2 separate regions of the Homo sapiens genome follow, and region 1 is reported to be linked to region 2. Evidence: microRNA targets listed by miRTarBase, many of them from high-throughput screens and not tested one by one. Region 2 holds a microRNA gene; the other region holds the end of a gene's coding sequence.
The links. Region 2 holds the annotated microRNA hsa-miR-6759-5p (UUGUGGGUGGGCAGAAGUCUGU, at 1,762-1,783, shown strand). A microRNA usually pairs through its seed, bases 2 to 8, with sites in the 3' UTR of a target mRNA and lowers its output. Matches are read on the target gene's strand: a 7mer-m8 pairs with bases 2 to 8, a 7mer-A1 pairs with bases 2 to 7 and ends in A, and an 8mer does both.

Region 1 (3,346 bases), not on the chromosome of region 2:
ACTTCAGGCCTCTCCCCAACTCTTGTTTTCTTTTACTCCGTTTTGTTTTGCCATTCATCATATGCCCTTCTGGGTTTGTTATTTTTTTTTTTTTTCTGGAGATGGAGTCTTGCTATGTCACCCAGGCTAGAGTGCAGTGGTGCAATCTCGGCTCACTGCAACATCTGCCTCCCGGGCTCAAGCGATTCTTGTGCCTCAGCCTCCCAAGTAGCTTGGATTACAGGCACGCGCCACCATGCCCGGCTAATTTTTGTTTTTTTTAGTAGAGACAGGTTTTCACCATGTTGGCCAGCTGGTCTCGAACTCCTGACCTCAGGTGATCCATCCGCCTCAGCCTCCCAAAGTGCTGGGATTACAAGGGTGAGCCACTGTGCCCGGCGCCCCTCTGGTTTTGTTCTCTTGGTTTGGGTACATGGATCCTGCCAGCCCGCCTCTATCAACGCAACTCCCAGGCAGAGGTGCATCAGGAGTCAGGGTCCCCGACTCACAAGCAGCACAATGGTACACAAGTTGTTGTGGCTCTCCAAGCCTCGGTTTTTCATCTGTAAAATGGGTATAGCCCTGTGGGTGCAGTGGCTCATGCCTGTAATCCCAGCACTTTCAGAGTTCAAGGCAGATGGATCACTTGAGCCCCAGAATTCAAGAACAGCTTGGGCAACATAGTGAGACCCCGTCTTTACCAAAAAAATATGGTAATTAGCCAGGTGTGATGGAGAGTGCCCGCAGTCCAAGCTACTCAGGAGGCTGAGGTGGGAGGATCCCTTAAGTCCGGGAGTTCGAGGCTGCAGTGTACTATGATCATTCCACTGTATTCTAGCATGGGTGATTCAGTGAGAACCTGTTTTAAAAAATGGATATAGTCCCTATTTGACAGGCTTGTTGGGAGGATTCAAGGAAATCATCTCTGTAAAATGCCCAGCACAAGGTCAGGCACACAACAAATATTCCATACATGTTAGTCTCCATGTCCTTGCCTCCCAGGCAGGAATCATCTCCTTCACTCTGGTACTGCTTAGTGATTAAGTGCACAGACTCTGGAGCCAGACTGCCTGATTCCAAGCCCTTCTGCTATGTACTAGCTATGTGACCTTGGGCAAATCACTTGCCCTCTCTGTGCCTGTTTTCCTGTTTGGAAAATGGAGACTGTAAGACTAGTGTGTACCCACCCCCCAAAGATCGTTATGAGAATTAAATTAATATATGCCAGGGGCTTAGAGCAGCGTCTGCGTGGGCAGCCACACTCTGGGCGCCAGCCGTTACTACTGCCTGCATCCCTGCAGTGTCTGGCAACATGTCTGGTACCTGCTCGAGGCTCAATAAAGATTCATTTTTGAATGAATTAATGAAGCGATAAGACAACCCCACGATGCAAAGGCAGGCCATGTTGGACGCCAGTGAGCCCCTATACGTGAGAAGCTAAATCACCGCAGCAGATTAAGAGCCTCCCCCAAATAAAACCTGGATAATCCCCACACCAAGAGTTAATCCACACTCTCTGGGGCCACTCCAGGTTACCACCCCATTTCCCCTCTTCTCATCCCACACTCTCACCCACCTCTTTGCTTAATCAATCAAAAGCAGGGAGGAGGAGCAGGTGCAGCAGTGGCAGAGGGGCGCACCCCGGGCATCATGGTGAGACCAGCACCGGGGCAGTAGAGGGCAGAGCTGGGTACCCCGGTTGCCCCAGGGATCGGAGGAGTTGGAGTGGAGCCAGCCAGGCAAACAGCCTTGGTCTCAGGAGAGCAGAGACTCCTTGGATGGGGCAGGCCAAGGACCAGTGACCACAAGCAGCAGGGAGGGCCACTGAGTTCCGCCAGGCCCAGCAGGGCGAGGCTCTGGCCAGTCTCCCAACCCCACCCTCCTTGACCTGGAAGCCGGGGGCAGCCCAGATCCCAGACACTGCTGCCCTCTCGTGGCCACTCCTCAGAGGTGCAATGGTGCCCCTGCGGGTACCTGACTGTTTACAGAACTTAATGTCCCCAGAGCTGCCCCAGGGGGCTCCTTCTTCCAGGCTCCTGGAGGAGATACTCCTCCCCAGGTCTCCTCTGCCTAGCTTCGACCTCCCTATGGGACTAACGTGCTGCCCCAAGCCCCTCCTGCCTGTGCTCCCACTGGTTTCTCTATAGCTGCACCTTCCTGCCAAGGCCTAACTGAAGTTTCGGGTTCTGACCAGTCCTCTGGACTCGTCCCCACTTTCCCATCAGTGCTCTCAAAACTCCCCAAAAGCTCCTTCGTGAAACCATGTGCTGCATCACAACTCTCTGTCAATGGTTCTGTCTCCCCCAGAGGACTGGGCTCCTTCAGCCTTAGACCTAGGCTAGGACTGGGCTGTCCCATTTCAAGGGTGTGAGGCGAGCAACGGGAGTAAGAATCAGGAGAAACAGAGCCCCTTTATGTATTTATTTATCAAAACACTCGCAAACCTGACCTCACTCACCAACACACACACACACAACCAGGACACATGTGCCAGGCCTTATGAAAGGCTATCAAGTACTTTGAAGGACAGGAAGGAATGAACACACCCAGGTGGACGTTTGGTTTCATTTGCAGGGGTTCAGGGAGGGTTGCAGGGGTTCAGGGAGGGCTCTTGTCCCACAACCGGGGAAGGGAGAGGGCAGAGCAAGGCAATAAATAGAACCCTGGGCCCAGCCTGCTTTGGTACATTGTGGGTGCATCCCTGCATGTGGCCTTGGCAGCATCTGCTCCCGGCCCTTAACCATCAGCAGGAGTCAGGAGGGTGGGGCCCAGGCAGCTGGTGCAGGCAGGCCAGATGTGCAGCCCAAGGTCCCTCCAAATAGCCCTGGAGCCCTGCAGGGCACGAGGTAAGAAGGGGGCAGATGCAGCAGACCCTAGCTGTCCACGTCTGAGGGCACAGTCTTTTTCCTCGTCCGAACCTTCAGGGAGCGCGAGGTGCCCTGGGGAAAGGGGAGGCACAGCATGAGGGTGTGGGGAGCACCAGCCAGCAGAGCCCTCCTCCCTCCTGTCGTCCTCCCACACTGACCTCCCGCACCGGTGGCTTCCTCTTGACCACACGCAGGCTCTGGCTGCGGATTAGGGGCTTCTCTCGGGGCCGGGCTGGCGCCCGGGGGACTGCCTCAGTATCTGACCAACACTCATCCTCGGTGTCGCTGTCCTGCAGGCCCCCGGCCCGGTACCCTGTGTGGAGGAGGAGGTGAAGCTGAAAGCCTGCGACCAGGCCAGCCCTTCCTCGAGCCTTGGGGGAAGCCATGGTGTGAGTGAAGGAAGCCATCCCTCCTGGCATGGCTCTGGGCCCCTCTGCCCGCTCACCAATGGGTGGCCTCCGGTGGGACACCTGGTCCTCCAGGTAGAGGGGGTCATGGTA
Region 2 (3,396 bases):
CGCACCTCCATGCTTGGCTAGTTTGTTAATATTTTTATAGAGATGGGGTCTCAGTATATTGCCCAGGCTGGTCTTGAACTCTTGCACTCAAGCAATCCTCCCACCCCTACCTCCCAAAGTAGCATAAGCTACTGCATCTGGCCCCATTCTTTTACTTGCGTACTACTAACTTGCCCATAGCAGAAAGCTCTGAAATGTTCTGGAATTAGGAACTTCATATCCCTTTATTCTCTTTATTTTTTATTTATTTATTTATTTATTTATTTATTTATTTATTTATTTATTGAGATAAGGTTTCACTCTGTCACCCAGGCTGGAGTGCAGTGGCCCAATTACAGCTCACTGTAGCCTCTACCTCCTGGGCTAAAGCAATCCTCCCATCTCAGCCTCTTGAGTAGCTGAGACTACAGGTGCACGCCACCATGACTGGCTTTTTTTTTTTTTAGATGGAGTCTTGCTCTGTCGCCAGGCTGGAGTGCAGTAGTGCGATCTCTGCTCACTGCAACCTCCACCTCCCAGATTCAAGCAATTCTCTTGACTCAGCCTCCCAAGTAGCTGGGACCACAGGTGCACGCCACCATGCTCAGCTAATTTTTGTACTTTTAGTAATGACAGGGTTTCACCATGTTGGCCAGGATGGTCTCGATCTCTTGACCTCATGATCCACCCACATCAGACTCCCAAAGTGCTAGGATTACAGGCGTGAGCCGCTGCACCTGGCATTTCTTTTTTTTTAAAAAAAGAGACAAGGTCTTGCTTGCCCAGGCTGATCTAGAACTCCTGGGCTCAAGCAGTCCTCTCACCTCAGCATCCCAAAGTGCTGGAATTGTTGGCCTTTATTCCCTATACTTCCTATTTTGAGCCACTAAGCAGTAACCATTCAACTAAGATATCTTTGAAAATGACTGCTACCTTATATCCCTTCTCACCTTAGGCCTCTCTTCTGTGGAAACTCTGAAGCCGACCAGTTGGGCAAAATCTTTGAGTAAGTGACCAACATGGGAGAAAAAGATTTTCTATTCTGAGTCCTCTTTCTGCTGAACCCAGGATGGCAACTGGCTCTGCCCATGGGGATGGGAACTGGAGGACCCTCCTGACCAGAGTTCTCCTGTCCCCCACAGCCTGATTGGGCTGCCTCCAGAGGATGACTGGCCTCGAGATGTATCCCTGCCCCGTGGAGCCTTTCCCCCCAGAGGGCCCCGCCCAGTGCAGTCGGTGGTACCTGAGATGGAGGAGTCGGGAGCACAGCTGCTGCTGGTACTGGAGATGGCTGTGGGCACAGGGAAAGAAATAGAGACTGGGGAAAGAAATAGAGCAGTATGCAGGGCCCTGGCCACTGTGGTTAATGAAACTTGGTTGGTAGATGGGCTGTAGTTTTTATTACAGCTGCAAATAGCCACCCACAGAGAAGGATATAGAAGAGAACCCATCCTGGCTGGGCACGGTGGCTCACGCCTGTAATCCCAGCACTTTGGGAGGCCAAGGTGGGCGTATCACCTGAGGTCAGGAGTTCGAGACCAGCCTGGCCAACATGGTGAAACCTCGTCTCTACTAAAAGTACAAAAATAAGCCGGGGGTGGTGGCACACGCCTGTAATCTCAGCTACTTGGGAGGCTGAGATAGGAGAATCACTTCAACTCAGGAGGCGGAGGTTGCAGTGAGCTGAGATCATACCATTGCACTCCAGCCTGGGTGATAGAGCGAGACTCCGTCTCAAAAAAAAAAAAAAAGAAAAAAGAAGAAAGCTCATCCCAGGTATTGTTGTGGGTGGGCAGAAGTCTGTTTTCTTCATGGTTTTCTGACCTTTGCCTCTCCCCTCAGGAAATGCTGACTTTTAACCCACACAAGCGAATCTCTGCCTTTCGAGCTCTGCAGCACTCTTATCTACATAAGGATGAAGGTAATCCGGAGTGAGCAATGGAGTGGCTGCCATGGAAGGAAGAAAAGCTGCCATTTCCCTTCTGGACACTGAGAGGGCAATCTTTGCCTTTATCTCTGAGGCTATGGAGGGTCCTCCTCCATCTTTCTACAGAGATTACTTTGCTGCCTTAATGACATTCCCCTCCCACCTCTCCTTTTGAGGCTTCTCCTTCTCCTTCCCATTTCTCTACACTAAGGGGTATGTTCCCTCTTGTCCCTTTCCCTACCTTTATATTTGGGGTCCTTTTTTATACAGGAAAAACAAAACAAAGAAATAATGGTCTTTTTTTTTTTTTTAATGTTTCTTCCTCTGTTTGGCTTTGCCATTGTGCGATTTGGAAAAACCACTTGGAAGAAGGGACTTTCCTGCAAAACCTTAAAGACTGGTTAAATTACAGGGCCTAGGAAGTCAGTGGAGCCCCTTGACTGACAAAGCTTAGAAAGGAACTGAAATTGCTTCTTTGAATATGGATTTTAGGCGGGGCGTGGTGGCTCACGCCTATAATCCCAGCACGTTGGGAGGCCAACGCGGGTGGATCACCTGAGGTCAGGAGTTCGAGACCAGCCTGACTAACATGGTGAAACCCTGTCTCTACTAAAAATACAAAATTAGTCAGGCGTGGTGGTGCACACCTGTAATCCCAGCTACTTGGGAGACTGAGGCAGGAGGATCGCTTGAACCCGGGAGGCAGAGGTTGCGGTGAGCCGAGATCATGCCATTGCACTCCAGCCTGGGCAACAGAGCAAGACTCTGTGTCAAAAAAAAAAAAAGAATATAGATTTTTAAATGGCTTTTACTTTTATATTCGCTAAACTTTCTCAAACTGGATCCTGCTTATTACAGGAAAGAGTTCTTGGTTGTTTTCTCCTTGGCCCTATCCCTGATTTACCCTTAGAGCCACACCAGGGTATGTTGAGGTGATCCAGTATATGGACAGAGGAAGGGAAACAGCTAAGAATGACTCCAGCCCCCATCCTATGCACTCACAGAAGCTTCCCATATCCTCTTGGAGAGAGAGGAAGAAAGTTTTTCCTTTTATTCCTTATAGTCTGGCTCCCACTAAAATATGTCAAGGCATAAAGTCTTGCTATTCCATCAATTTTAGAGGATGTGACAAGGGGCCTTTCCTTTTTCTCAAACCAAAACGGTTACAGACCCTAGATATTCCCTAAGGGAGGAAGAGAAAGCTTAGAGAGAGCAGAAGAAAAGTCAGAAGGATCCAAAGTCTCATAGAAAGGCACTGGGGTTGGCTCTAGGATCCTTCTGATTCCGAAATCTCATTGCTAGCCAAACACCAAGGATCTGTAGGAACAAAGGGAGAGAGATAAGTATCAATTAATTCTCAGTCTCAAAAAGGATGTGTGTGAGGGAACTGGAGAATGTTACCTCTGTAAAGCTAAAGAAGAGTCCAACACCCCCTAGGATTTTCAGGGCTTCGTCTGAATGCTTAAGAAACTTTTCTCCACACATCTGGC

Region 1: miRTarBase lists REEP4 as a target of hsa-miR-6759-5p. Seed matches in the 3' UTR shown: 8mer at 2,667-2,674.

What each region holds. Positions count from the first base shown.
Region 1 is chr8:22,135,635-22,138,980 of GRCh38, forward strand. REEP4 (receptor accessory protein 4) reads right to left here. Exons shown (of 8, transcript NM_025232.4): 6 at 3,292-3,346; 7 at 3,005-3,159; 8 at 2,386-2,918. The coding sequence ends at 2,853. Among named protein-coding and RNA genes, the nearest start is that of REEP4, 4.6 kb to the right of the region's middle.
Region 2 is chr12:57,747,043-57,750,438 of GRCh38, reverse strand. It overlaps MIR6759 (microRNA 6759), which reads left to right and starts at 1,757; the gene lies at 1,757-1,821. It overlaps TSPAN31 (tetraspanin 31), which reads right to left. Exons shown (of 6, transcript NM_005981.5): 5 at 3,308-3,396; 6 at 220-3,223. The coding sequence ends at 3,149. CDK4 (cyclin dependent kinase 4) reads left to right here. Exons shown (of 8, transcript NM_000075.4): 6 at 935-985; 7 at 1,122-1,257; 8 at 1,822-2,712. The coding sequence ends at 1,914.